4 linked regions of the Homo sapiens genome follow. The protein of the gene in region 3 binds, or shares a complex with, the protein of the main gene of each other region. Each region holds a gene or a part of one and is shown on either strand. Other genes may lie near its edges. A codon is read from its position in the direction of its gene.

Evidence for each region.
Region 1: the proteins of UBA3 (region 3) and UBE2M are in contact, whole or in part, in a crystal structure (PDB 2NVU), measured with the Homo sapiens proteins. Residues at the interface, in NP_003959.3 of Homo sapiens: His53 (codon at 459), Pro54 (codon at 456), Asp55 (codon at 453), Glu61 (codon at 435), Ser62, Phe65, Cys70, Gln149, Asn152, Asp153, Thr154, Arg157, Gln158, Phe159, His160, Ile170, Arg173, Trp174, Ser181, Leu182, Leu183, Asn184, Pro192, Ile195, Val196, Pro197, Leu214, Met217, Arg254, Met255; in NP_003960.1 of Homo sapiens: Lys3 (codon at 4,195), Leu4 (codon at 4,198), Phe5 (codon at 4,201), Ser6 (codon at 4,204), Leu7 (codon at 4,207), Lys8 (codon at 4,210), Gln9 (codon at 4,213), Gln10 (codon at 4,216), Lys11 (codon at 4,219), Lys12 (codon at 4,222), Glu15 (codon at 4,231), Lys21 (codon at 4,249), Gly22 (codon at 4,252), Ser23 (codon at 4,255), Ser24 (codon at 4,258), Lys25 (codon at 4,261), Lys26 (codon at 4,264), Ala27 (codon at 4,267), Gln31 (codon at 4,279), Leu32 (codon at 4,282), Gln35 (codon at 4,291), Lys36 (codon at 4,294), Ile38 (codon at 5,415), Asn39 (codon at 5,418), Glu40 (codon at 5,421), Phe51 (codon at 5,454), Ser52 (codon at 5,457), Asp53 (codon at 5,460), Pro54 (codon at 5,463), Asp55 (codon at 5,466).
Region 2: the proteins of UBA3 (region 3) and NAE1 are in contact, whole or in part, in a crystal structure (PDB 3DBR), measured with the Homo sapiens proteins. Residues at the interface, in NP_003959.3 of Homo sapiens: Trp34 (codon at 516), Glu35 (codon at 513), Gly36 (codon at 510), Arg37 (codon at 507), Trp38 (codon at 504), Asn39 (codon at 501), His40 (codon at 498), Lys43 (codon at 489), Phe44 (codon at 486), Glu46 (codon at 480), Arg47 (codon at 477), Ser48 (codon at 474), Gly49 (codon at 471), Pro50 (codon at 468), Phe51 (codon at 465), Thr52 (codon at 462), Phe56 (codon at 450), Glu83, Lys86, Asn87, Leu90, Ser91, Val106, Ser107, Leu109, Asn110, Arg111, Phe113, Leu114, Arg116; in NP_003896.1 of Homo sapiens: Glu10, Gln11, Lys12, Tyr13, Asp14, Arg15, Gln16, Leu17, Arg18, Leu19, Trp20, Asp22, Glu44, Lys47, Asn48, Leu51, Pro52, Gly67, Glu68, Ala70, Gly71, Asn72, Asn73, Phe74, Phe75, Gln77, Arg78, Ile81, Phe92, Glu95.
Region 4: the proteins of UBA3 (region 3) and UBE2F are in contact, whole or in part, in a crystal structure (PDB 3FN1), measured with the Homo sapiens proteins. Residues at the interface, in NP_003959.3 of Homo sapiens: Ala401, Thr403, Thr405, Leu406, Glu407, Gly408, Asn410, Arg411, Thr412, Ser417, Val418, Thr419, Ser420, Ile421, Arg424, Thr425, Gln442, Glu443, Ala445, Ala447, Asp448, Val449, Thr451, Pro452, Gln453, Thr454, Leu456; in NP_001265234.1 of Homo sapiens: Thr27, Arg28, Arg29, Val30, Asp34, Lys35, Val38, Lys39, Val41, Ala42, Glu45, Val54, His55, Phe56, Pro57, Asp58, Pro59, Asn60, Leu62.

The regions. Positions count from the first base shown.
Region 1 is NC_000019.10:58,555,598-58,562,569, reverse strand, and holds UBE2M (NEDD8-conjugating enzyme Ubc12), read left to right. Parts: upstream 1-3,958; 5' UTR 3,959-4,188; coding exon 4,189-4,297; intron 4,298-5,412; coding exon 5,413-5,507; intron 5,508-5,639; coding exon 5,640-5,678; intron 5,679-5,779; coding exon 5,780-5,883; intron 5,884-6,190; coding exon 6,191-6,254; intron 6,255-6,340; coding exon 6,341-6,481; 3' UTR 6,482-6,858; downstream 6,859-6,972. Other genes in the region: MZF1 (myeloid zinc finger 1), read left to right, coding at 1-498.
Region 2 is NC_000016.10:66,806,964-66,813,980, forward strand, and holds part of NAE1 (NEDD8-activating enzyme E1 regulatory subunit), read right to left. Parts: intron 6,884-7,017; coding exon 6,824-6,883; intron 6,735-6,823; coding exon 6,601-6,734; intron 3,810-6,600; coding exon 3,734-3,809; intron 3,451-3,733; coding exon 3,411-3,450; intron 2,113-3,410; coding exon 2,026-2,112; intron 1,651-2,025; coding exon 1,558-1,650; intron 1-1,557. UniProt on the Homo sapiens protein: Regulatory subunit of the dimeric UBA3-NAE1 E1 enzyme. E1 activates NEDD8 by first adenylating its C-terminal glycine residue with ATP, thereafter linking this residue to the side chain of the catalytic cysteine, yielding a NEDD8-UBA3 thioester and free AMP.
Region 3 is NC_000003.12:69,077,366-69,085,235, forward strand, and holds the start of UBA3 (NEDD8-activating enzyme E1 catalytic subunit), read right to left. Parts: upstream 3,001-7,870; 5' UTR 2,989-3,000; coding exon 2,969-2,988; intron 2,789-2,968; coding exon 2,747-2,788; intron 554-2,746; coding exon 433-553; intron 1-432. Other genes in the region: ARL6IP5 (PRA1 family protein 3), read left to right, coding at 7,683-7,858. UniProt on the Homo sapiens protein: Catalytic subunit of the dimeric UBA3-NAE1 E1 enzyme. E1 activates NEDD8 by first adenylating its C-terminal glycine residue with ATP, thereafter linking this residue to the side chain of the catalytic cysteine, yielding a NEDD8-UBA3 thioester and free AMP.
Region 4 is NC_000002.12:237,970,008-237,977,024, reverse strand, and holds part of UBE2F (NEDD8-conjugating enzyme UBE2F), read right to left. Parts: intron 3,934-7,017; 5' UTR 3,918-3,933; coding exon 3,800-3,917; intron 3,377-3,799; exon of another isoform or gene 3,278-3,376; intron 1-3,277. UniProt on the Homo sapiens protein: Accepts the ubiquitin-like protein NEDD8 from the UBA3-NAE1 E1 complex and catalyzes its covalent attachment to other proteins. Together with the E3 ubiquitin ligase RNF7/RBX2, specifically neddylates cullin-5 (CUL5).

The sequences.
Region 1 (6,972 bases), on a different chromosome or scaffold from region 3:
GCCTGCGCCGAGTGTGGCAAGGCCTTCCGCCAGCGGCCTACGCTCACGCAGCATCTCCGCGTACACACGGGCGAGAAACCCTTTGCCTGCCCCGAGTGTGGCCAGCGCTTCAGCCAGCGCCTCAAGCTCACGCGTCATCAGAGGACACACACCGGCGAAAAGCCCTACCACTGCGGTGAGTGCGGCCTGGGCTTCACGCAGGTCTCGCGGCTCACCGAGCACCAGCGCATCCACACGGGCGAACGGCCCTTCGCCTGCCCCGAGTGCGGCCAGAGCTTTCGGCAGCACGCCAACCTCACCCAGCACCGGCGCATCCACACGGGTGAACGGCCCTACGCATGCCCTGAGTGTGGCAAGGCCTTCCGCCAGCGGCCCACGCTCACGCAGCATCTGCGCACCCACCGACGAGAGAAGCCCTTCGCCTGCCAGGACTGTGGCCGCCGCTTCCACCAGAGCACCAAGCTCATTCAGCACCAGCGCGTCCACAGCGCCGAGTAGCTCCAGCCGGGACGCACTGTGTCCGCCATGGTCAGAACACCTACCTCCCCTGGTTATTGTGAGGCTGGCGATTACATAAGTATAAGCAGGTCCGCCCAGGGCTTGGCTACTGTAGGTGTCCAATAAACAGTAGATGGAAACTGGGTCTCCACCCACTCAGTGCCTCCCTACCTGTGCGTCCTTCACTCCCCACCCTCCAGCCCCCCGAGTGCTGGGCTGGTGTGCTCCCTCTGTAACCACGTGGTTCCTGTGAGGGTTCACCTCCACAACACCCCTCTTCACCCTGAGAGAGGTGGCTCCTAGCATCACCTACCCCGCGTGTGGGATGGCCGCTATACCCAGCTTCTAGTTTACAGAGGGAATGGACCAGCAGCAGGTGGGGCAGAACTGCCCTGGGCAGTCCAGCTTCAGCTCTCCCTGGGCAATGGACCTCGGTTTCTCAAACCCAGAGAGGAAGAAATGTTCTCTGTGAGCATCCACCAAGAGTACATATGTGCATAGCATGGTGCCATGCCTGATCTGATTGAGTCCCATCAAGAGACAGAGCACAGCTAACTAGGTGTTAGGTGATTGATGGGAGAGTGAGAAGGTTAAGTCAATCTGTCTTAGAAATGGGAAAGTTCCTGCAGGAAGCAGCTAGACCCTTAGGACTAGAGGAACAAAGGGAAGCATTGCAACTTAGAAGCTCCAATGAGTTTCCCATGGAGCTGGAACTCAGGCCCCTGAGAAGAGGGCACTGCTGAGCCAGTCCTGGGGTCTCTTAGCTGGCAGGGAAGCCCTGTGGGCCTGAGGGGGTACTGCTCAGCTGGTCTGGAGGTCTCTGTTCTCAAGAGGGTGCCCCATAGGCCTAGGAGACTCCTGAGGGGGCACTGGTGTGGGTGTCTCCAAGGGGCCCAGTGAGCCTGGTTCTGGGAGGTATGTAAAAACTGTTGCTCCTGGAAGGACCTGCTGTTGCCAAGGGGAAGAGGTGGTGCTGGCCTAGTCTCTTCTCCCTTTCCAACCCCTGTTCCAGCCTGCCCTTAACAGATCTGCAAGTGAAGAGAGGTGTTTGTAGTCTCTGCCCTGCACAGTGATGCCTAGGTGGGTAGGTCTGGAGCCCAGCCTTGTCTGGTGATGAAATCCCATGGGATTTTCCCTTGACACTGAGACCAGGGCCTCCAAGGGCTGGGAGAACACTCAATCCTCAGGGAGGTTACCAGCCTCCTGAGCACCAGTCCTCCTTGCTCCAAGTCAGCGTTAATGATTCATTCCCATGATACTACCTCTCCCACCCCAGCTCAGCTGTACAGCTACCCTTACCCTAACAGCACCCTACTCCCTAAAGTGGTCCTGAGCGGCCAAAGCTTTCTACCTTTATCTACCTATCAGTAGGAGTACCCGCTGAAGAGTTGTACTCATGGGGACATTCAGCATCTCACCCTTAGTACTAGAGGAACAAAGGGAAGCAGTGGGGTCACAGCACTTCTTACAGCTGGGAGCCAAGGATCCCACTTGGATCTGCCAACCCCCAGGTTTGTGGGTGGTACTGTGCCTAAACTTGATGCCTGCAACCTGCATGCTCCCCTCCACACCCTGTCACGGCTGTCCCCTGGGCCATGGGCCAAGCCAAACCCCAGGAAAGGACCCAGACAGGCCAGAATCTCCCTAGCCAACCAAGATTATGCGATCCAGCAGGAGCAAACTGACACCTGGTGATCCAGATTCTGCCTCAGGATGTCTTTGTAAAACTCCTTTACACCTAGGAAACCATTTCCTAGTTTTAAAACTAGAAGATTTCACCTGGAAATTCAGATTTTTCAAGACTTTCCTGTTCTCGTGTTCACAAGCAGCAGGTGATGAGGGTGTAGGACCCTGCAGATGGAACCCCAGCCAGTCTGAGAAGCAAAGGCTGCAGGCCCTGGGCCAGTTTCCCTGCCCTGTGGTGATCATTCCCATCGCTAGAGCTGAAGGCTTCTCCCACCCTGGCCCCATGCACATTGGAAGGTTTCAGTCAGGAGTAGATTCAGCAGCAAACCAGTGGAAACGCAGCTTAGGTGAAAGTGGACAGATGCTGAGAGCATAAGTTCAGCATACTGCAGGCTTCAGGGCAGCGTCTCCAGGACCCAGTGCCATTGCCTGTTTTGCCCTAGCCATCTTCCCCTTCCATCCCATTGTCCAGGTCCTTCACACAGCCCCTCTCCCCCAACCCTCCAGTGGGTGACTTGGGTGCAGGTAACACAGGCTGAAAGGCAGTTTCAAAGAAGGGGCTTGGCCTTGGCCAGAAGCCACTCCTGGGGGAGCATCTGCAGAATCAGAGGAGTGGCGCCTGGGCCCCTCCGCAGGCAAGTGCCACACCATGCGCTCACGGGGCTGGCAGTTTCCGTGGTGACGGCCGGAAGTCGCTGACCGGCAGAGTTCCGTTTCCTCCCGCCCTCCGAGGCACGCTGAGCTGTGATTGGATGGGAAGCTGACCCCCGCCTCCATCCCCTTTTCCAGATAGTGGGGGAAGCGCAGAGGCTGCAGTGCGTGTCCGCTGGAACTTGAGGCCCACGCCAATAGCGGCCCGATTCCGCCCCCACGTCGCGTTCCCCAAGTGTCCACCCCGACAGGTCTTCCCCTACACCACTGTAACCCTCCACAGTGCTTACCACTCTCTGGCACAATACATGTTTTGTTAGTTTACCTCAATCAGAATCTCCAGGAACGGGGATCTTTGGGTTTGCGATGGGACAGGGAAGGTACTCGACCTCGCACCCTCTGGGTAACGCATCTAGTCTCACTCAGGGTCTTGCCGCGATCACCCTGCCTTGTCTGTGACCCATAGGGTCAAAGGCAGGCCGGGCGGGTGGCGGCAGCAGCGGAGGTGACCACCCGCGCCGCGCTCTGCACATATATACAACTTAAGATGAAGTGACCGCGAGCAAAAGCGGCCCACGTCTGCCCCACTCAAAGATGGCGACTAACTCCGCTTCCTGCCCGGCCCCGCGAAAGTCGCCGGAAGTGACCTGCAAGGCCGCCGAAGCGTCATCTCCATGAACGGAAATGCCCGAGTCCAGCCGAAGGAGGCCGAACCCCAAACTCCATCGCTGAGCAACGCGGGTTTGCGGCGGCTGCGCAGGCGCACAACGCAGGCCGGGCGGGAAGAGCCAAAGCGGGCAGGCGGCGGAAATATCCGAAGCGGCGGGGCGCCCGAGGCCGTTGCCGACCTCCGCGCTAAAGCCGCTGCTGCCGCGGAAGACGATCCTCCAGTACCCGCCCGCCGTCACCGCAGCTGCCGTGTCCTCCTCCCACCCCTAGCCGCACCCCCTCGCGGAGGGATCAGCTGAGCGGCCAAACGGCACGGTCGGGGGAGCCCCGAGTCCGCAGCTGCAGCGGGGCCTGAGACCAGAGTTGGCGAGGGCAAGGAAGGAGCGGCCCCGGGCAGTGGGGGCGGGGCCGGGCGGGCCCGAGAACAGCCGAATTTGGCCGAGCGCTGCCGAGCGAGTCCGAGGCGCTGGGCCAGGCCGGAGCCGGACTACGGGAGCCGAGGCGGGCCGCGCGGTGGGCGCGGAGAGGAGCGGAGCGGCGCGGCAGGCCGGGCGGGTGGCGGCAGCAGCGGAGGAGGCCGCAGCTGCGGGTCCGAGGAGCGGAGGCGACGCGGGCGGCGGCGGGGGGCCGGGTGGCCGGGGTCCCGGGCCCCGCGGCGGCGGCAGCGGCGGCGGCGGCGGCAGGATGATCAAGCTGTTCTCGCTGAAGCAGCAGAAGAAGGAGGAGGAGTCGGCGGGCGGCACCAAGGGCAGCAGCAAGAAGGCGTCGGCGGCGCAGCTGCGGATCCAGAAGGGTAGGGGGTCAGGGGATGGGGTTGGAGCCGGAGGTCGGAGGTCAGGGCCTGAGGCAGGGTGATGTGGGAGTCAGGAAGGGGTAATGCGGTTGCTGAGGGTCAGAGGTGAAGGGCCCCGAGCGTGGGGGGGGTCGGAGGTCAAGTCTTGAGGGTTGGGATCATGCAGTCACGGGGAGGGGGTCAGAGATAGGGGCCCGGTATGTGGTGGTTTAGGATATTAGGAAGGCCTGGTGTCTGCTACTAGGGACTCGGAATCTCAGAGTCAGGCAGTGGAGTGGAGGAACTGACGACTCGAGAGTCTGGGGGTTAGACGGGAACTTGGGTTTGGGGTGACAGGCGGAGAAGAGAGGGATAGTAGAGGCCAGGGGTTGGGGATATGAGTGGAAGAGGATTTAGTTTATTATGCTGGGGTCTCTGGGAATCTCTGAGTCAAACGGGTGAAGTAGGTTGGAGGACCAGGGACTCATGGGCCTGCCTGAGTCACAGCAATTTGGGGTTTGGGGTGACAGGTGGAGGAGGGAAGGTTAATGAGTACCAGGGATTGGAGACAGGGGTGAGGGGAAATTTAGGCTATTGTGCTGTGAACCTCAGAGTCAGAGGGGGTGGGGTAGGGTGGCGGGGGTTGGGGACTTGAGAGTGTGGGGGTCACATGGAAAGCTGGGTCTGAGAGACAGAGAAGAGGAAGGACAGTGAGGACTGAGGGTTGGTGGGGGTGGGCAGGATCTTTGAGTTTGGGTGAACAGGTAGATACTGTAGAGTGGAGGTCATGGATGGGGAGCCTGGGGTTTAGGGCGGTCAGAGGATGTTTGGGAGTGGGGGCATTTGGGAGCTGTGGATACAGAAAAGTTGGGGGTCACCCTGGGCCAGGAGTTGGGACACGCATACACAGCTGAACATGCATGTTTGGGGTATGCTGTGTATCCACAAGAGCCAAGCTGGGGAGCAGGGAGAGGGCTGGAGGTGTGGAGCACAGCCCAGGAGAGGCGCCTGGGGGTCCAGGAGGAGACGATGGGGGCTCTGCTAACAAACACCCGCCCTAAGTGTCCTGCTGGCTCCCTCTCTCTCTCTCTTCCCCTCCCTCTTTCTGTTCCCGACTCTCTGCTACCCAAACCCAGACATAAACGAGCTGAACCTGCCCAAGACGTGTGATATCAGCTTCTCAGATCCAGACGACCTCCTCAACTTCAAGCTGGTCATCTGTCCTGATGAGGTGAGGGTGCATATGGCTGAATTCCCAGGAGCAAACCAAGGGTGTCCCCACTGAGAGGAGGGAGACATGTTCTGCCCATCGGGCCCCACAGGATGGAACCCTAAAATTTTCTTCTCCCCCTTTTCCTCCCAGGGCTTCTACAAGAGTGGGAAGTTTGTGTTCAGTTTTAAGGTGAGTCCCAGGCGGGCAGGGATGGCTCCCTGGACAGAGGAGGCAGCAGCTGAGGCCCTTCCAGGCACCTACCCATCTCTCTTTTCTTTTCCTGGAGCCAGGTGGGCCAGGGTTACCCGCATGATCCCCCCAAGGTGAAGTGTGAGACAATGGTCTATCACCCCAACATTGACCTCGAGGGCAACGTCTGCCTCAACATCCTCAGGTGAGGACACTGGCCCTCTAATGCCCTCCTCAGCGCTGCCTGCCAGGCCTCCCTCATGGTCTTGTGGGCACTACATCAGACTCTGTCCCTTCCCACCCCTTTGTTGTCTGTGGTTTCTTGATTTCCCAGTCATCTTCCTCATGGCCTGACCTTGGTTTTCTCCTTGGCCTGTCCTGCTCCACACCCTCCCTCCCAGCCTCTCACATGCTCACTCTCCTATGCCCTGGATCTGACCTGCCCAACACCAGAGGGGCCTGTGGCAGTCTCCCACTCACCAAGCCCTGACCCTGATGCTCTCTGTCCACAGAGAGGACTGGAAGCCAGTCCTTACGATAAACTCCATAATTTATGGCCTGCAGTATCTCTTCTTGGTGAGTAGGAATAGGTGGTTGGGTCTGGGGAGATTGGCCTTCTGTCCCTCTGGCCTGTTGACCCCCCCTACCTGTACTGGCCACAGGAGCCCAACCCCGAGGACCCACTGAACAAGGAGGCCGCAGAGGTCCTGCAGAACAACCGGCGGCTGTTTGAGCAGAACGTGCAGCGCTCCATGCGGGGTGGCTACATCGGCTCCACCTACTTTGAGCGCTGCCTGAAATAGGGTTGGCGCATACCCACCCCCGCCACGGCCACAAGCCCTGGCATCCCCTGCAAATATTTATTGGGGGCCATGGGTAGGGGTTTGGGGGGCGGCCGGTGGGGGAATCCCCTGCCTTGGCCTTGCCTCCCCTTCCTGCCACGTGCCCCTAGTTATTTTTTTTTTTTTAACACCATGTGATTAAGGTCGGCGCTGCCTCCCCCGACCCACTCAGCGATGGGAAATGAATTGGCTTGTCTAGCCCCCCTGCTGGGTGCTTGTTCAGCCCCCACTCTGGGCTGTGGAGTGGGTGGGCAACGGGCCTGGGTAGCTGGGCCCAGGCAACCCACCCCTCCACCTCTGGAGGTCCCACCAGGCTATTAAAGGGGAATGTTACTGCATGGCCTCTGCTTCTTACTTCTATGGGGTGGGAGGGGCAGCTGAGGTCCATTAGGGCCTGCAAAGCTGGGGTGGTGGAAGGTGTGGTCACAGGTGGCATTGGAGCACCCTACAAC
Region 2 (7,017 bases), on a different chromosome or scaffold from region 3:
GAAGCCAACTGACATGCCAAAAGGAAGTCCAAGCTAGCCACGTGAAGAGATACCTGACCAGCCGCCAGCTATTCCCACTGTTCTGACTAAGGTGCTAGTTACATGAGTAAAAATGTCTTCTTGCATGTCTAACTCAGTCAGTCAAGCCTTCAGAATGACTCCACCCCCAGGCTCAAGCAACTGCATGCCTCCCCAAGGAGAACTGCCTGAGACCAGGCAACCCACAAAATCACGACACTATTTATTGTTTTAAACCACTAAGTTTTGAAGTGGTTTGTTATGCAACAGATAACTGAAATAAATACTAATCAAATAATACAAATAAAGCAATACATATTTGGTGTTTATTCTTTTTTTTTCTTCTAGTAAGCTTGCTTGTTAGGACTATAAACTCTGGGCAGCGCAGTGGCTCATGCGTGTAATCCCTGCACTTTGGGAGGCCAACACAGGAGGATCACTTGAGGTCAGGAGTTCGAGACCAGCCTGGCCAACACGGAGAAACCCTGTTTCTACTAAAAATACAAAAATTAGCTGGGCGAGGTGGCGGGCGCCTATAGTCCCAGCTACTCGGGAGGCTGAGGCAGGAAAACTGCTTAAACCCAGGAGGCGGAGGTTGCAGTGAGCTGAGATCACGCCACTGCACTCCAGCCTGGGCGACAGAGCGAGACTCCGTCTCAAAAGAAAAAAAAAAAAGACTATAAACTCTGGAGACACACTGTATCAGATGGAGCAGCAGGTTTTATGATACCCCTAGAATGTGTTGCTATGCAATAATCCTGCACAATTAAAATTATCATCCCAAAGAAAAATATTCTGAGCAACCTCAGATCTTTGAGATTATGCCAATTCTCCAATGACTACATTTGCTGAAGATAAAAAGTAGATAACTAAACAAAGAAATTCCTACATCTTCAGAGTTATTGAGTTCAGAAATTAGTAGCATACTTTTTTTTTTTTTTGAGACAGTCTCACCACAGTCACCCAGGCTGGAGTTTAGTGGCACAATCACAACTCACTGTAGCCCCAACTTCCCAGGCTCAGGTGATCCTCCCGAGTAGCTGAGTCTACAAGTGCACACCACCATGTCTGGCTAATTTTTTGTATCTTCAGTAGAGATGGGGTTCCACCATGTTGCCCACGCTGGTCTCCAACTCCTGGGCTCAAGCAATCTGCCTGAATCAGTCTCCCAAAGTGCTGGCATTACAGACGTGAGCCACCGTACTATGCCTGGCCAGCATATTTCTTGTGGCTTTCCTATTCCACTAAATTAAACTCAGTGTGAGTCTTAGTAACAAACTATGGAAAATGACAGAAAAAAGTTTTCTTCTATACATATTCAACCAACATCCCCCTGTAATAGTTTAGAATCGAACACTATTTTGCAAATAGTTAAACTTAAAAAACAAAAGGTGGTTCTTCACTGGGGAACGTTTGGGGTGTAATCTGTTTACAATGTGAAATTCAAGCAACACTATTATAAATACCCTGAGAACACTTTCAATTTAAATGTTTTATTGAAGATCTTATTATATCTGGTAATTCAATTGCTATTCTTACCTGGATATCTACCCTGTTGTTTATGAAATCTATCAACAGCCCGTAACATTAAGTACAACACTATTTCATTATCTGGATTGTCCATGCTAGAAACTGAAAGGAAAAAAAATTTCAGTTTAATTTGGTTAATTTGCAATGTAACAAACAATGAAGGGCTGAATTTACTATATACTTGAGTTTCAGGACTATTAACTGGAGTCACACAATCTCTACTGAAGTAGTAACATACTGACTTTAACTCATACATATCACACAATGGACTCAGTGACCTAAATATGACTTTATGCATACATTAAGTTTCATATAATATATAAATTATAATTACCTAGATAAGCTTAGAATAAAATTAGAATATGTTTACGTTATCTTTAATATCATCACCATATACTCAACACTATTATACACAAAATATTTATATCTTTTAAATTAATTAAAATTAACCCAGAATCAGAAGGCTATTATACTTACTAATTTCATCCTTGTTAATTGTATCCAAACCATATTCTTCAGCTAAGGATCGACATCTTACCACTCGAAGAAATGCAGAATTGCTGCCTGAACAGAGGAAAGATATTCTGGAAGTAATGACTGTGACTGGTGAATATTATGAATCACAGGTGACTTTAAGAACAGAGAATTATGTGTATACCCTTCTCAGACATGAGAATGTGAAGAAATGTTTTCTCCTTGGTTCTAATAGCAGAGAAAGCACTAGAACATGAATCACCTTAAATTTATATCCCTGGCACTACAACCAGTTCAGAAGCAAGTAAGGTGATGGCCTCTCTGAACCTCAGTTTTCAAGTGTAAAATGGGGATGATACTGTTTACCTTTGAGAATTGTTCTACAGATTAAATGTGACATCTGTATAAAGTGCATCTCTAGCACAATGCCTGATATGGCTCTAAAAATAATAGTTTTCATCATTATTATGGATAAGTAGTCCTAAAGGAGAGAGGTTTATGAATTGTACTCTTGATATATGTAATGACTTTAAGCTTTGTATTATTGAAATTTTCAAAAACGCCCCAAAGTAGAACAGAATAATAAATGTTCAAATACCCAGCATCAAACTTGTGATCTAGTATTATATAATCTAATACAACAAACGCTAATTCAAGATTAGTCTAATAGAACAAACAAGGTGCAAGATTAGTAGTGGCAGAAAACATTAAAACCGAGCCTAAACAGACATTGTGGAGAAGTCATAAAATGGAAAGCTTGGATAAATCTATTTTAAGGATGGGGAGCATGCAAAATATAAACTTCCACAGGACGTAGGAGCAGTAGCTACAGGGAGAAATCTTCAGATGGCATGCACAACAGATTGGGTATTTTGAAACTGACTCTTAAATAAAAGAAAATGCTTTTGGCCTACTGAGGAGTTACTGAGAAGACTCCTACGAACCTAACCACTCCGAAACTAGATGGCAAAATTCTTAACTCCATTACAGTCATTTAACACAGATCAAAATGAGTATTTAAACCAATATTGTCAATGTACATGTGACTCAAGACTTCACACCCAAAGTCTTCAGACAAAAAAACTTCCTAAATTACTTAAAATTTAAAAACTGAAAATCCTGTATTAATGGCAATTTTCAATTAACTGACCGTCAAGCCTTTTTAGCATTGCCACAGATAAACATGTTCTACCTCTGATTCAGTCTTAAAATACTCGCCATGTATTGTATTATGAGAGGAAAAAAAAAACCTTACCCAATAATTATCTATATCTATATCACTGAGGCCATGGAAAACTTAAAATTTCAACCATTCAAAATACCTGGGAACATTCCCTGTGGCACATTTCTATCAAGCAAAATAAGGAAATTAATTCAAGGGGACTTACAGAGTAATTTTAATTCTTTCTCTGAAATGGACTCTGGTGCCTGTAAAGAGATAAATACAGATTCTGTTCCAGTTTAAAAGAGAAGATTAACAAAGGGTGCGGCACAAAGCCAATCACTGTGAGATGGGAAGGCTTTCTCCAAGAGCTGGGAGAGCACTTTAAAAATATCTTGTTTCCTTATCACAAGCTATCCCATTAGGCAGGGAAATGACAGCTCCCTCTAAAGAAGCACAGAGGCAGTGCCACACCCTCTGTCTCTAAACCCTTTCTGGCTGGAGTTACGTGCTGAGGCCTGTATGGGCACAGTGTGCCCAGTAGCTTACCTGGCCAATGGACTGCAGCAATTTGGCAACATGATTACCCACAGCGGCAGCATCTTTCTTTGCTTTTTCACGGTAACTAAAAAAGAATAAAAAGCAATTACTAACAAATTTTTAAATTAGCAAAATTTAAATTGTTACCATGAACAAAAATTTTCTTTCCTTTTCATGAAAAAACACAGGTCTGACAATGTATGAAATGTGAAAATGCCAGGGAAATGCTATCAACAGCACCATGAGTAGCTGGGAATCTTTCCAGTGTTAGTGACGGACTCTCAGTGCCCACTAAAACCCAGGGTCCCTCTAACAGCACCCAACTTAAAAACTGCTCCCCTAGAGGGATCTATGATTTCGGCTTCTGTGACAGAGGACCTGAAAAAATACATTACTGAAGAACATGACTTATCTCCTGGAAGTCAAGTCCAAGGAAAGTTAAATACATTAAAACTGTTCATCTCCAATGTAAAACTTCTTTGTTTTTTGAGACAGGATCTCGCTCTGCCACCCAGGCTGGAGTACAGTGGCGCAGTCCTGGCTCACTGCAGCCTCAACTTCCCACGCTCAACTGATCCTCCCACCTCAGCTTCCCAAGTAGCTGGGAATTCAGGCACACGCTACCATGCCCGACTAATTTTTGTCTTTTTTGTAGAGACGGAGTTTCACCATGTTGCCCAGGCTGGTCTTGAACTCCTGGGTTCAAGTGATTTAGAAACTGAAAATACTGTATTAATGACAATTTTCAATTAACTGACCTTCATACCTTTTTAGCATTGCCATAGATAAACATGCTCTACCTCTGATTGTTTTAAAATACTCTGTATTTATTATGAGAGGAAAAAAAAACCCTTACCCAATTATTATCTGTATCTATACCACTGAGACAGACCATGGAAAACGTAAAATTTCAACCATTTAAAACAACTGTGAACATCCCTTGTGGCACATTTCACCACCCGCTTTGGCCTCCCAAAGTGCTGGGAATACAGGTGTGAGCCACTGCATCCGGCCATAAAAGTTTTCTTTACGTCTATTTACCTTTCACCCTCTAAAAATCATCAGTGTTCAGGCTGACTACCTCCCATGTAAGGTCATACTTCTTTCTATCCTCAATTGACCTTCCCCAAGTTTTAAGTAGTTGAACTCTTAGGCTAGGACAACAAACCAAGATTCGTTCAATGGTGACATGATAAAGAGTGAAATCTGTCTGGGGAAGAGAGATCATCTCTGTGTGACATTACTTGGACCCCAAAGAAACCGAGCCAGCAGACCTGGATTCTTTGCACCATGCCCTAACTATACGAGGGTCATATTCATTGAGACCCATCCCTGTGATAGTCTATCTGGGTTCAGGCTAGTGATACCTGGATAGCAAGATGTCTAGCTATAGTCATAGACTATAACTTATGAAACATTAAGATAAAAAATTCATCAAACCTTCATGGTTTTAAGTTACAAATACAAGGTAGTATAGGGCCATAGCTAAGCATACAGGCTCTGGTACTGGGTTTCCTGGGGTTCAAATCTTGGTTCTGCCATTTACCAGCTATCTGACCTTGTATAAGTAACCTTTTCAATACCTTAGTTTCTTCATGTGTAAAATGGGGCCGGTAACAGTCTCTCTCTCTCTCATAAGGTCGTTGTGAACCTTGTGTGTGTGTTAAATTACTTAATACATATAGTTCATAGCACAGAGTTAAGGGATCAAATATTAAGTTTATCATGAAGTATGAAAAAAAACTCTGCCTCCTAGGCGTATGTGGTAATTCTGTATTTCCCATTCAATTTTGCTTTGAGCTTAACAAGAATTGCCCCCTAAGTTCTTTTTTTTTTTTTTTTTTTTTTTGAGACGGACTCTTGCTCTGTCTCCAGGCTGGAGTGCAGTGGCACGATCTTGGCTCACTGCAACCTCCGTCTCCTGGGTTCAAGCGATTCCCCTGCCTCAGCCTCCCGAATAGCTGGGACTACAGGTGCGCACCACCACACCTGGCTAATTTTTTGTATTTTTTTAGTAGAGACAGGGTTTCACCATGTTGGCCAGGATGGTCTTGATCTTCTGACCTTGTGATCCACCCGTCTCGGCCTCCCGAAGTGGTGGGATTACAGGCGTGAGCCACCACGCCCGGCCTAAGTTCTTTTTTTTTTTTTTTGAGACAGAGTCTCACTCTGTCGCCCAGGCTGGAGTGCAGTGGTGCGATCTCCGCTCACTGCAAGCTCCGCCTCCCGGGTTCACGCTATTCTCCTGCCTCAGCCTCCCGGGTAGCTGGGACTACAGGCGCCTGCCACCACGCCCGGCTAATTTTTTTGTATTTTTAGTAGAGACAGGGTTTCACCGTGTTAGTCAGGATGGTCTCAATCTCCTGACCTCGTGATCCGCCTGCCTCGGCCTCCCAAAGCGCTGGGATTACAGGTGTGAGCCACTGCGCCCAGCCTGGTCTAAGTTCTTCAGCTTATTTTTACTTATTTATTTGAAACAGGGTCTTGCTCTGTCACCCAGGCTGAAGTGAAGTGGCATGATCATGGCTCACTGCAGCCTCAAACTCCTGAGCTCAAGAGATCCTTCTGCCTCAGCCTCCTGAGTAGTTGAGATTAAAGGCGAACACTACCATGCCCACCTAATTTTTCAATTTGTAGAGATGGAAGTCTCACTATGTTGCCCACGATGGTCTCAAACTCCTGGACTCAAGCAATTCTCCCACCTTGGCCTCCCAAAGTGTTGGGATTACAGGCATGAGCCACTGCAGCTGGCCTAGTTTATTTATAAGCAATGAGGTTGTAATAAACTTTCATTTGATTTCTGACAGGATGATAAAATGTTTATCTCTAATATAATCAGACTTTTTCTATTACATAGTTTGAAAACAGTGACATACACGTTTTGCAGTTTTATATATTTGCCTGAATCTGCAATCATATCAGGAATTGTGCCTCGAACAGGTAAATTTCCTTGACCCTCTTTGGCCACAAATTCCTTTAAGGCACGAGCTAAAATCCAAAATGATGGAGTCTAAAAGAATAAGAAAAAATTAACATTAAGTGGCGTTTTACTTTGACCCAAAGTTTTAGCAGCAATGTTTTTACTTTTGTTGTTGTTACCTGTTTGGTGATATTTATGCAGCGATCATCATTAAATATATCTTCAATACTGCTTGGGATCTAACAAAGGAACATGAAACATTTACTTACACAGTATTAAGAATTCGCCCATCTTTATTTTCAGTGCTATTTCTTCAGATATGTTCTTTGAATTCTCAAATTGTAATCAAATACAAACTTCTGATTGGTTTATA
Region 3 (7,870 bases):
CTACGCCTCTATTATTTAGTACTTACATAATTCTTAACATGCAATTAATTATACTCAAAGCTAAGATGTTCATTCCAACTAAATTTCAAAATTTAAGTAAGCACACCTATACTCCTATCAAAATTAATTTCTCACAGTAGCACTACAAAAGGGGAGTATGTTTCAGAAAGCATTTTAAATTTTTACATGAGGTCATGAAGTTAGATTTTTCTCACAAAAATTTTCAACTTATATTACATGAGAAATGTTAAGACTCAAATATTCAAACAAAATCAGTTGTGAATATTCAATCTCATATTTTAAGAAAAATTTAGTTTCACAAAACAATTTTATTAGTATTTTCATTGTAAGAGCAAATTAAAAAAGAAGCATTCTATTAGTTTTGAAACATAAAACTATTAGAGCAGTTATTTAAAAATAAACGTTTCTCACTTCAGTGCTCGGTTCGAAATCAGGGTGTGTGAAGGGTCCAGATCGCTCGAGGAACTTCTTTACATGGTTCCAGCGACCTTCCCAGTCTCCAGTGTCCCCACACCCACCATCAACAGCCATTCTGCACAGAACACAGTAAATTCAGCTGCAAAGATCAGTATGAAAAAAACCACACCTACAACTATTATGGTATCCCCAAATGAAAAGGTAACCACACCAGACCTGCTCAAATAAAAAGGAAAATATTCAATGTGATTATGTTTATGCTTTGAAATTTTTTCTTGCCTATTATACAATTCATTTAAAGTTAAGAACTGCACGTTTCTATTTTTATTTCACCCAATGGATGAAATAAATCAGTCTACATGTTTTTGGTTTCCTAAAGCAATCCAAGGTTCAACTTAGGATATTGGTCTATTATGTGAGAAATTGACTTCTCTACATTTGGTATTTACAAAAAAAACACTGCAAGCTTCCTCAATCTGTTGTTTCATCACACTTGCATTAGGAAATATGAGATACAACAGAGAAAAAAAGTCACACTTTCAGAATTCTGATGCTTATATGTCTGATGCAAATTTAATATTTATGTGTCCTTTCCAAAGGTGTAATCTAAAAATCACTTTGATGAGAGGAATTTTCACACACTTTTCTCAGAAATAAGGTTATTTTTTCTTTTTCTTTTTCTTTTTTTGTGACAGAGTCTCACTGTGTTGCCCAGGCTGGAGTGCAGTGGTGTGACTGCAGCTCACTGCAGCCTTGCCCTCCTGGGCTCAAGTGATTCTCCTGCCTCAGCCTCCCAAGTAGCTGTGCCTACAGGTACATGCCACCATACCCAGCCAATTTTTGTATTTTTAGTAGAGACGGGTTTCGCCATGTTGCACAGGCTGGTCTGAAACTCCTGAGCTCAAGTAATCCGTCCACCTCGGCCTCCCAAAGTGCTGGGATTACAGGCATGAGCCACCGAACCTGGCAGAGGTCTTAATTTTTTAAAGAATCTCTTAATGCTGTGGGACGGCTTTTCTTGCCACTAAACACAAAGTTTCAGATTACAATTACGCCACAGATAGACATCTACAAACCTTTTAGAACATACAACAGAATAAGGTGGGACTCCTCTACAAAATTCATCTATTTTATACTTAGTTAAGATTCACGTTTGGTTGTGATTATTTTTAATTTTCTAATTTCCTATAACTCCACAGTTTCTACCGTCAAATATATTAGTAATATCCAATTTTTACAAAAGGGACCAAGAAGTATTGCCTAGCAATAAAAACCATACGTTTTGATGTCAGAGTTGTGTTGGGTTCCACAATTAACAGCACTGTGACCTTGAGCAGATTACTTAATAGACATAAACCTCATCTGCAGGCCGTTCATAGCTACTTCTTTCAGCCATGAGGATATAGATAATCACACAGAAGACTCAGTACAGTACGTGGGATATGGTAAGCAATGTTTAATTGTGATTTCATGTAAAAGTGGGAGGGAAATAAAAGGCAGGAAAGAATGTGAAATTAAGTTTGTCATCCCGGTCCTCTTGCAGCTGAAATTCAACTGAGGGACACACATAAAGATCAAAGCACTGCTACTGGGAATCGGCACGGAAATTTACAAACTCACCATAACCAATGCAAGAGTATTTTTTCCCTGCCCAGGCAGGGAGGGGAGTAAATTATGTGGCGCTGGCCAGGTTAGAAAACACTTCGATTAAATCTGTCTCACCAGCATAGAATTAAGCATCTGATAAGAAATAGGGTGTGTAGTAAAAGGGATAAATAGGCTGTTTGAAGTCAACAACCTCTTTCCAGATCTTTTAAGAGCCAATTATTCTGCCAAAATGACTGGAGTGCTTAGTACAATACCTGACATGTAGAGTTATCATTAAAAGTTTGCAATTAGTACTACTGTCTCAGTGTTTGCAAAAGGCCACAAAACGGTCTTGTGTCCTTTTCCTGTGTGTTTAAGGTAGATTGCCTTTTCACAGGGTCACTGCTCTGACAATTTGGGATGGAGGAAGAGGAGTGCACAAGGGTCCTTCCTCAAGACCTTTACGTCAAGCACCCCGGAGGGCCCCTGCAGGAGCTGGGGCAGTACAGCCTGGCCCCGACGCCCGCACCGGGCAGATACCGGGAGCGGCCCGCCAGGCCCCCGGGGCTGCGGGGCGGGGATCAGGGGATGAGGCAGCGCGGCCTGCGCTCCGGGTGTCCCCCTCCCAGCCCCCCGGGCCCGCTGCGGCTGGTCCCCTAGGCCTGGGGTGGGGGGAGGCGGGGGTCCCCGGAGAGGGCCCCGGCCTCCCGGCAGCACTAACTTCTCAGCCAGCAGCTCCTCTATTCTCCTTCTTTTCTTCTCCCTAAAAGAGAGAATAAAAGAAGGGTCAGCATCGCGCTACACACTGGGCGCCGCGAGGGGAGGGGGGCGAGGGGACGGGGCGGGGGGTGTGGGGACCCCGGGTGGCGGCGGCAACCGCCCACCGCCGCGCTCTCTCACAACCCAGCCCAGCCCGGCGCGTCTGCAGAGCCCCGGTACTTACGGCTCCTCGCCATCCGCCATATTGTTCTCCGCCTCTTCCCAGGTGCCCACGCGCGGCAGGGCGGGGAGGAGCGGGACTGGCAAAGCGGGGAGGGGCGGGGCTGGCGAAGCGGGGAGGGGCGAGGCCAGAAACACAACCGGCAGGGAGGTGCGAGGTTGACTGCGGCTGGGCTCCCATGGGCTTTAAAGTCTTGCCCTGTAATTATAATCTTAATTACCTACGCTTAATTAGGTGAATCTTATACCGTGCATAATGTTGCTCTGCAGCGTGAAAATGTAGACAATACATTATGCGTTTACACAAACTATATGTTAATACGTAATTATACAAAATATTGGTATATTCTATGAAAAATTCGTGAAGAACCCTCCCAGTATGCCAGAGCTTTCCTCTGGGGGCAAAGATCAAGGAAATTTTCACTTTCTGCTTTTCAGGATGGTTCCAAAGTCTTTGCCTTTATAAGTACTCACTTGAATAATAAATTTATCTAAATCCGTTTACATTGGTGGGGTGGGAGATTATTATTTTCTTTGAACAAATCAGCATTAATATTTTCATGTCACATTCTGTTAGATAAGTTCAGCGGAAACAAAATGATTAAAACTTTTCCTGAGATAAATGTGTATATTTAGATACAAAGAAAAAAGTATAAAGGAAAACAATCACAAAAATCAAAGAATAACTGAGAACACCCATAATCCTATCACCTAAAGATAAATTGTGATAAAAGTTTCAATTATTTTCTTCTAGAGTCAGAAATACAAATATACACTGTGAATCTGGATGGCTGGATAGAGGGAAATGATCATGTTCAAAAATGTATGTATATACACGTACACACACATCTCCTTCTATGGAGTGGGACAAGAATGATATTTGGAATCAAAAGTAACTGATTTTAAATTCTTCTCAGTTGTGAGCTACGAAACCCTTAGACACTTCTATTTCTTCATTTATAAAGTGGGCATAACACTATTCACCTTGTAAGACTGATAATTAAGTAAAATCCAGAGTGGCTCTCAAAATACAGTTCCTGATCAACATCACTTGGGAAGTTTTTTTTAACACAAATTTTCACCCCTCACCGCCCCCACCACGCTCCCCACCGCCCCCCCGCCACCCCACCCTTCAGCCTTCTGCAAAGCCTGGGGTGATTCTCCACTGGTAAAGTTTGAGGGCCACTGAAATGGAGTACATAAAGCCTGATGGGTACTCAGTAAATGTAGCTGCTGTTACTACACTGTGATATTTAACCTCCTCTTGTCCTAGTTTTCAGTGAACCTTAAGGAAAGCTTGTCCTTTATGGTCCCCCAATTAGGTTCAGTTCAATAGCATTCACTGAGCTGAAAGTCAATGCCAGGCAGTGAGCGTGGGAATAGAGTTCACAGTCCCTATCAAGAGATACCAGCCTCCTTCTGCATCACATGTCTCAGCGTCAACTATGAAACTACTTTTTCTTGCCCAGACAACTCCACAGATGGTTTCACTGAGGATTTAACCTCAGTGCTTATCAAAATGGGCTCCTGTAGCCTGAACCCCCAACAATACTGGATACCCTTTGATTAGTGGTAGTGAGCATTGCAACCCTCTCAGATAGTGAAAAGCAGCAGTCACCTTAAAGGCCACCTAGTCCAGTCTCACCCATTTCACAGGGGAGGAAACTGAGGCCTAGGGATAGAGTACAGCTAGCCGATGAAGAAGTCTGCAAAGGTATCTGGCCCTGCATCTGCTTGCTTTGAGACTAACAGCCTGACTCACCATGGTGGTATTTTGATAAACGACACCAGGCACTCTCACTGGCTTAGATTGATTGACGGATTAGAAATAGCCATCTGCCCTTGCCAGGAATGAAAGCAACAGAGACATGCAAGCAAAACCTTCAACAGATTTATTTTACTTCAAATGGAACATATCATAAACAATTAGACTATCTGCTATGGTTTTTAAACAGACAGATAGTCTGAATGGTCCTATCTAGACACACCAGTCCCATTATAAAAGCCCCATCAAGCAGGGCTCGGCTTCCCACACCTGTAGTCCCGGCTACTTGGGAGGCTGAGGTGGGAGGACTGTTTGAGCCCAGGAGTTTAAAACCAGCCTGGGCAACATAGTGAGACCCTGTCTCTAAAAATAATAATAAATTAAAGCTCCAGAAAGACCTCTACAGTGAATCTGACCCCTCCCTCCCCGGAATGAACACTAACAAAGAGCTGCTACTAATAGCATTTCAAACAGTTACTGGAAAAAAGTAATGACTCATTACATGTTCATTTTTATTTAAAATAATTTAACAAAGGTAGAAATATTTAGAGAAAAAAAAAATCTCCCATACCCCAAAGAGAGAGACAGGGTTAACATTTTGGGAGGGAGACAGAAGGGAATCATGCTATAAACAGCTTTCTCTGTCTTTTCAGAATTTATTTATTTATGTTTAAACCTCTAAAGAGGTTTAATTCTTTCTTGGGTATCAATTGCCTGTGATCAAGGAGTAATCATATTGTTACTAATACACTCTTGACAGCTTTTGGTCATGCAGTTCTGAGCAGTTGGAAGATAAAGTTCTTAGTTACAGCTTCTAATACTCATAAATCTCACCAACAGTGTGGGGCCCCACTGGAGTTCCCACTCTCATCTTGACCAAGATGATTTACTCAGCTTGCCCACAGTGCTGCCTCTTGACATTCTGAAGCCCTGGGGAATTCCTCCACACCCTCTGACTTCCTGTAACTGAGCACTGAGGCTCAGTGCATCTCTATTTAGCACTCCTCTTACTGTCTCATATTTAACTAGTGTTTCCACTGGATTGCAGAAGTTTTGAAGGCAGAGCAGGATTACATTTTTCTCCTCTTTAAAAAAAAAAAGAAAAGAAAAGAAAAAAAACCCACAGTGCTTTCACAGAGCCTCAAAAGAACTCGAAATACTTGCTGGCATTGTACTGAATATTCTCAACCTTTTCCCCCTACCCAGATACATCCACAACAATAAAGTTGGAGCAAGGTAGAGAAAAGTTAGTAGATGTTTATAATGAAAGCATAGAAAACAAATCAGATTAAAGCACTATTAATAGCAAACAAGAATCGTGGGCTATCCTATTGCTAATAACAATAATAGTAACATATAACTGTGAACCTTTATTATACACTAAGCATTTCCTATACATTCCTTCACTTAGCCTCGTCTATATGGCAGATGTTCCATTATCCCCACTTTACACATGAAGACACCGAGGCTGGGAGAGATTAAGTAGTTTCTCCAAAGTCACCTGCCAGAGAGGAAGGAGCTGCGACTCTAATTTTGCTTTCTCTGACTTCACACCATCCCATTTTTCCAGAATCAAGAAAACATGAGCACTCAGGAATATTTTCACATTTTAAACTTTATTCAAAAAGCAGCACATAAGATATATCTTAGCACTAATTCCATGCAATCACCAAATTTTCCTAAACAACAGTAGTAGTAGTAATTTCTTAGAGTCGCTGTAAGCTCCTTAACTGTCTTCTGAATTAATAAGGAAAATTAAATTATGTTTTCTAGACTTTGCATTAGTATATTTCATTACTTTCCAAGTTTTCAAAAATTGGTGATCTGAGTAGAGTGAATTCACCTTGTCTAAGCCACTTAGGGGCTTAGAGACTCTGTTATCTTAGAAATCTTCACCTTAGAATTCTACCTATTACATTATACAATTAAACAAACTACTTTTTTTCTCATGCATTGTACCAATCAGCCCCTTAACTGAAAAAAGATGACCCTTGGAAGCTTAGAAGAGAATTGACAACGAATACTTCTTTTGCCAGGTCTTTGGGCTGGGATACAAAACATCACGTTATCTATGAATATATTGTGGTCCCTCAGTGAAAGCTGTCACCAAATATTGCAATAAAACTAAGAAAACTTTTGAAGTGGAATGCATATTTCTGCCCAGAAAATGCTGGATGCAGAACAACTAGTTCACTGCAGACAACTGTTTGCTTTAAAATGTAAGCAACATGCCCAGCTCAGGACTGAAGTGGCCAGAGTGCCTACTTTATCAGAATGGCATAGCAGTCCAACAATTTAGCCTAGAGAGAACAGAGGTGGAGAACAAAGAAGAGAAGTGAAAAAAACAGACCAGCCCTTCTGTTCTACATGACCTTCTTTCCCGTTTTGCCAATCTGATTTCACACATAGTGACTCATGGTGAAACAGAGAAAACATGGGAATTGCATTCAGATGTGTAGAGGTTAGTAAGACTTAGTTTTCAAAAGCAGCTCATTCTCCATTAACACTGTAGTCGCCTTCCATTTCATTTCACTTAGATTGGCATCTGCACAGCTGCCAAAATTTTTCTCTAAGTCAGAGAACACACTCCTAGGTAAACCTTCAAAAAAGGTATTTCGAAGGAGGCAGCTTCTCTGCTGCTAGAGAAGGCATTGCCACCTCCCTTCAGACAGGGGATTTCCGCTAGTTGCTTTCTGTCATTTCGTCTCTATTCTGCACTCAGTCCCTTGTTCTGTCTGGAGGTTCCTGTTTTCCTGTACCCAACCAAGAGCCAATGAAGAAGTAAAGAGGAGCAAACACGCCCGCCCACTCCCAATTTCCTTTGCTCTGCTGTCTGCCAACCGCAAAGCCGACCGAGACGGAGCCGCTGTCAACTCTCCAACTCAGCTCAGCTGATCGGTTGCCGCCGCCGCCGCCGCCAGATTCTGGAGGCGAAGAACGCAAAGCTGAGAACATGGACGTTAATATCGCCCCACTCCGCGCCTGGGACGATTTCTTCCCGGGTTCCGATCGCTTTGCCCGGCCGGACTTCAGGGACATTTCCAAATGGAACAACCGCGTAGTGAGCAACCTGCTCTATTACCAGACCAACTACCTGGTGGTGGCTGCCATGATGATTTCCATTGTGGGGTAAGTGGGGTC
Region 4 (7,017 bases), on a different chromosome or scaffold from region 3:
CTCCTTGAACTCTCTTTTCTGTGGACTTGCACTTCTATTCTGCTACTTTGGTTTCTGCTTGTCGCATCTGCCCCCACAGAGCCTGTCCTACCCCAGTATGTGGGTCTGGCTGTCTTGCTGCAATAAACCCGCAAACTGGGCAAGTTTCTTAACCTGAGTCTCAGCAGTTTATGGGTAAAATGAAGGATCAATCTGGCAAGGCTTTGAAAAGTCAAACAAGAATTACCCCATTAAGTGCCTACTATGGCTCGAATGGGGCCAAAATTCATGCTGAAGCTTAATCCCCACTGTGGTAGTATTAAGAGGTGGGGCCTCTAGGGAAGTGATTGTCATCAGGGCTCTGCCGCATAAATGGATCAGGGCCTTATAAAAGAGCAGGAGGAAACTAGCTTAGGCCCTTTTTGCCCTTCCATCTCTTCTGCCATGTGAAGACACGGCAACAAGGTGCTATCTTTGAAGCAGAGAACTACCTGTACCAGATACCAATCCTACTAGGATCCTGGACTTCCCAGCCTCCAAAACTCTATTGTTTATAAATTACCCAATCTGTGGCATTTTGTTACAGCAGCACAAATGAACTAAGAAGGTGCCCAACAGAGGGCCTGGCCCTAAGTGCTCAGTATACAAAAGCTCCTATTAGCTACTATTAACCATGACAATGATTGGGTAAAGAAGATGGGACAGTCTGTTTGTCAGCTTCTACCCACTCCTCCTCAGCTGACATCCAGGCCCTCCTTGCTGCAACTCCTCAGGCACTGAAGCACTCACTGTCTACTCCAAGTACAGCAACAACACACCATTTTCCTGGCTTGTGCTGCAGATGGAGCCCGGAATCTGAGAAGACACTCAAGTCCTATCAGGCACACCCAAGTAAGGTGCTCCAGCTCTTGCCCCGCCCTCTGGGCCTCTTAGGGTAAAGCCTCCAGCACAACAGACGCTGAATACAATCTACTATTCTCCCAGGCTTAGTAGGTAAGGCCAAAATGTGAAATACCATTCTCACTCCACTTTCAACCAATCATCAGGCTGGATAATCCAAAACTAAGTCCAAACTCAGGGGCAGAAGGAGAGTAAGAAAAAGAGTACAGGCCAGGCACAGTGGCTCATGCCTGTTAGTCCAGCACTTTGGGAGGTCAAGGCAGGCAATCACTTGAGGTCAGGAGTTTGAGACCAGCCTGGCCAACATGTTGAAACCCCGTCTCTACTAAAAATACAAAAATTGGCTGGGCGTGGTAGTGTGTGCCTGTAATTCCAGCTACTCAGGAGACTGAGGCATGAGAATCGCTTGAACCCAGGAGGTGAAGGTTGCAGTGGGCCGAGATCATGCCACTGCATTCTGTCTTAAAAAAGAAAAAGAGGACACTGTTAAGTCCCCACAAACCCAGTGCCCTCACAGTTCCCATTCCTTCCCCAGTTTAACAGTGATTTGTGTCTGGGAAGGCCAAGCACAGCACATTTACATACACCAGCTCTTCTGCTGTTAGATTCTTCAGGACACGTAAATGCCTGCAATCTCCATGTTGTCAACCTAATACAACATGAAAACAGGGAGTTCGAATACACTAATCAACCCTTTGCTTTCTAGCTGCTCTACATGTAAGAAATGTAAACACTTGACGGGTACAGTGGCTCACACCTGTAATCCCAACACTTTGGGAAGGCCGAGGTGCGTGGATCACTTGAGCCCAGGAGTTCAAGACCAGCCTGGGCAACATAATGAAACCCCATCTCTACAAAAAAATAAAAAATAAAAAGACTAGCTAAGCATGGTGGTGCACGCTTGTAGTCCCAACTACTCAGGAGGCTGAGGTGACAGGATCGCCTGAGCCCAGAAGGCTGAAGCTGCAGTGAGCCATGATTACGCCACTGCACTCCAGGCTGGTGATAGAGTAAGAGTCTGTCTCAAAAAAAAAAAAAAATTTTAAAGAAATGTAAACACCTGTGATAAAGTAAGGCCAGGCACAGTGGCTCACGTCTGTAATCCCAGCACTTTGGGAGGCAGAGGCGGGTGGCTCACCTGAGGTCAGGAGTTCAAGACTAGCCTGGCTAACATGGTGAAACTCTGTCTCCATTTATGGCCGGGCACAGTGGCTCACACTTGCAATCCTAGCACTTTGGGAGGCCGAGGCGGGTGGATTATCTGAGGTCAGGAGTTCAAGACTAGCCTGGCTAACATGGTGAAACCTCGTCTCTATTAAGAATACAAAAATGGCTGGGCACGGTGGCTCATGCTTGTAATCCTAGCACTTTGGGAGGCCGAGGCGGGCGGATCACCTGAGGTCAGGAGTTTGAGACCAGCCTGGCCAACGTGGCGAAACCCCATCTCTACTAAAAATACAAAAAATTAGCTGGGCGTGGTGGCAGGCGCCTGTAATCCCAGCTACTATGGAGGCTGAGGCGGGAGAATCACTTGAACCCTGGGGGCAGAGGTTGCAGTTAGCCAAGATTGCACCACTGCACTCCAGCCTGGGTGACAGAGCGAGACTCCATCTCAAAAAAAAAAAAAAAACAAAAAAAAAAAAACCACAAAAATTTGGCCAGGTGTAGTGGCTCATGCCTGTAATCCCAGCACTTTGGGAGGCCAAAGCGAGCAAATCACCTGAGGTGGGGAGTTCAAGACCAGCCTGATCAACATGGAGAAACTCCATCTCTACTAAGAATATAAAATTAGCCAGGTGTAGTAGCGCATGCCTGTAATCCCAGCTACTCGAGAGTCTGAGGCAGGAAAATTGCTTGGTACTCGAGAGGCTGAGGCAGGAGAATTGCTTGAACCTGGGAGGCGGAGGTTGTGATGAGCCAAGATCACACCACTGCACTCTAGCCTGGACAACAAGAGCGAAATTCCATCTCAAAAAAAAAAAAAATGAGCTGGGCGTGGTGGCGGGTGCCCGTAATCTCCGCTACTCAGGAGGCTGAGGCAGGAGAATTGCTGGAACCCAGGAGGTGGAGGTTGCAGTGAGCCAAGATTGTGCCACCGCACTCCAGCCTGGGTGAGAGTGAGACTCTGTCTCAAAAAAATAAATAAATAAAATACAAAGTTAACTTTATTATAAATAAGCAAATTATAATCTCCTTAAAGGTTGCAACTGTTTCTTCATCTTTTATAGGTCTTATGACCCCCAAGAAACCGACTTCAAAGCACTTGAAAATTTTAAGAGTTTGCTAAATGAATAAATGCAAAATTTATGCTCAAACATACAAATGAATGCATATCTGCATGCACGCATACTCTCATACATTTTACCAACCCTTCTCCAAGGATAAAGTTTCTCCTCACCAACATGGATAGCAGAAGTCACGAAAACTCTAGAACACTATATGTTATTAATTCCGTGAAGAGAACTAATTTTTCACAAGATTCGCCGTAGGCTTTGACCTGAATAAAACAGGAAAAGATCCTAAGAGATTACAAAATTTGACTCCTTCCCCTTTACAGAGCAGAAACTATGGTGCTGAGAATCAGAAAGAAAGGAAGATAATGGCAGCTCTGAAACCAGTCTTAGGCTTTGCTGACTCTCAGCACCTTATTCTTTCTGCTAGCATTTTGGCAGACGTGACAAAGAACATCCCAAGTGTATAAGACACACTGCAGTTTCTAATACCATCTCCTTGCAACAGTGTGCTCATATCACCTGCGTGGTACAATGTCCTTCACTATAAGAGATAAGCAATTATATTTTAAAATCTTTTAAACAGGTATTTCTATTCAGCAGTAGGTTGCTTTATATCCCCAAAGACTCTCCAGTCAAACTTCCTTTTGTTATAGGATATAAAAACAGTTCACACGAATGATCATTACCTTTAACAAGCAATTTGTCTCTCACAGAAACCCTCCGAGTCGAGTCGGACGCTGTGGCTGCCGTCCGGGACCCTTTGAGACCATCGTCACGCTTCAGTTTACTTGCTAGCGTTAGCATTACTGCTGCCTTTACCCTGAAAGACAGCAATGAAAGCAGGGTTAAGGACCAGGTCTCCAGAGACTAATTAGACACTGAGAAAAATGTATAAGTGCTTTTGTATTTTGATTTTTTCCCACAATTTAGTTATGGAAAAAATTTGTACACATTAATAAGATTGGATTCCTTCATAATACATTTGAGAAGCTCTATGCCATCCTCTATAAGCCTAACTTTTAAAATTATGAATTAACATTTTTTAAAAAAGAGAGTCATGGCTGGGCACGGTGGCTCACAACTATAATCCCAGCACTTTGGGAGGCCAAGGTAGGAGGATTGCTTGAGCCTAAGAGCTCAAGACCAGCCTGGGCAACATGGCAAAACCCTGTCTCTACAAAAAATATAAAAAAATTAGCCAGGAGTGGTGGTGTGTGCCTGTAGTCTCAGCTACTCGGGAAGCTGAGGTAGGAGGATCCCTTGAGCCTGGGAGATTGGGGATACCGTGAGCCGTGATTGTGCCACTGCACTCCAGCCTGTGTGACACGGCAAGACCCTGTCTCAAAAAAAAAAAAAAAAAAAAAAAAAAATTTAAAATTAAAAAGAGTCATGCATTTCACACTCACTGGGTGCCAGGTCCTGGGATGTGGTTGTGACAAAGCTCCCGTGGAACACAAGGTCTAGGGTGGCCTCCACAGTTTCTCAACCAGCATGCCCTCACCAATGGGTTCCACATGAGTCCATTACTGCCCACTGGTAAGTTGGCCCTTCCCTGCTGCAGGGGATCATGCACACACATGGTACGGTCCCAGGTTCTGGCCCATCACCAACTGAAGCAGCACAGCCTCTGGTGGAAGAGGAGCACCACTCTTTGCTCTCCTTCCTCTTTTAATAAAGGTGTGGATAGAGCCTTAATAAGCATCTTCTCATTTATTCATGCTGTGTTGCATTTACTTACATTTGTGTTTTATTTATATTTTTTGGCAATTTCAACATCAAGACTAAATTAAAATTAATGTCCCAAAGTAGATTATGTTCATTGGTGGCTTCCACCCCATCTGTGTTGCAGGTTCCCCTGCTGCAAGCTCACTAGTAGGGACAACAAAGACCAAACACAGGTGATGCCCCTTGCTATCTGGGAGACGGTTGAAGAAATGCCACAATTTGTTTAAGATTTTATTTTTTAATGGCAGTTTTAAGTATACAGTAAAATTAACAGGAAGGTACAGAGATTTCCCATACGCCCCCTGCCCCAACACATGCACATCCTTCCCCTATTACCAACATCTCCCACCAGAGGGTACATTTGTTACAATTAATGAACCCACATTAACACATTATAACTCAAAGTCCACAGCTTACATTATGATCCCACTAATTGTAACAAAGTAACTATCCGCTAGACTCTGCCTTCTGTTTCTAACATAAACTGACATTAATCGTCCTCCTTGCCATGGTCAGAGAGGGTCACTGGAACTTCTTTTGACTGAGGACAAATATTTGTCACCAGGGCCAGGTGCCGTGGCTCATGCCTGTAATCCCAACACTTTAGGGGAACGAGACAGGTGGATTATGAGGCCAGGAGACCGAGACCACCCTGGCCAACATGGTGAAACCCCGTCTCTACTAAAATACAAAAAAATTAGCCGGGCGTGGTGGCCCACACCTGTAGTCCCAGCTACTTGGGAGGCTGAGGCAGGAGAATCACTTGAAGCCGGGAGGCAGAGGTTGCAGTGAGCTAAGATTGCACCACTGCACTCCAGCCTGGCAACAGAGTGAGACTCAAAAAAATAAAATAAAATAAAACAAAATAAATTGTCACCAGTTCAATATTTCCATAATTTCCTTTGTTGCTTTCGTATCATTTTATTTCAATACCACTCTGATCGTTTCAACAGAAAATGATCTAAAAATTCCATGTGAAAAGCTTGACCTAAGCACAGAAATTTTAGGTTGAGGCTAAGATCCTGAAAGTCAAATAAGAATACTCCGTTCCTCATTGGCATTTGAAACCATTTTTCACCCAGGTCTCTTACACAGTTTCTCACACCATCTTCTGCATATCCCCTAAATGCTGTCAGATTTTATTTTCTATTGTTTGTACCATGAAAACAGTACAGGCCAGGCATGGTGGCTCATGCCTATAATCCCAGCACTTCGGTAGGCCGAGGCAGGTGGGTCACCTGAGGTCAGGAGTTCTAGACCAGCCTGCCCAACATGGCAAAACCCCATCTCCACTAAAAATACCAAAAAAAATTAGCTCGGCATGGTGGCGGGTGCCTGTAAATCCCAGCTACTCAGGAGGCTGAGGCAGAAGAATAGGTTGAACCCGGGAGGTGGAGGTTGCAGTGATTGTGCCATTGCACTCCAGCCTGGGCAACAAGAGTGAAACCGCATCTCAAAAGATAAAAAAATTTAAAGAATTTTTTCAAAACGAAAACAATACATAGAATACGATCTTCTGAACTGCACAGTCTTTTCCACTAGAGGACACGGACATACACATACCCTAAACCCCTTAAGAAGCACTGGTCTAAAGGTTTCAAAGACAGCTCTGCACTTTCACGGTCATAAGCTCTCAGAATTGCAAAGTTGGAATGGACTTCTCTCACTCCCATTCCATTTTAACATGTGGACCCCAGGACAACAGAGGCCCAGAAGGTAGGCTGCCCAAAGCCACTCAGCTGCTAGAAGCTGTCACCACAGACACACTAGTTTCCCTCTTGTGGATGACAAAAATGTTTTTTGTTTGTTTTTTGAGACAGGTCTTGCTCTGTAGCCCAGGCTGGAGTGCAGTGGCGTGACTTGAGCTCAGTGCAGGCTCAAACTCCCAGGTTCAAGAGATCCTCCCACCTCAGCACCCTCCACCTCCTAAAGCAGCTAGGACTACAGGCAGGCACCATCATGTCCAGCTAATTTTAATTTTTTTTGTAGAGACAGGGTTTCACCATGTTACCCGGGCTGGTCTTGAATTCCTGAGCGGAAGCAATCCACCTGCCTCAGCCTCCCAAAGTGCTGGGACTACAGACGTGAGCCACCATGCCGGGCAGGAAATGTTTTTATCTCGAGTGTGGTCATGGTTTCAGACTGATCAATTACACAATTTAAATATGGGCAATTTAGT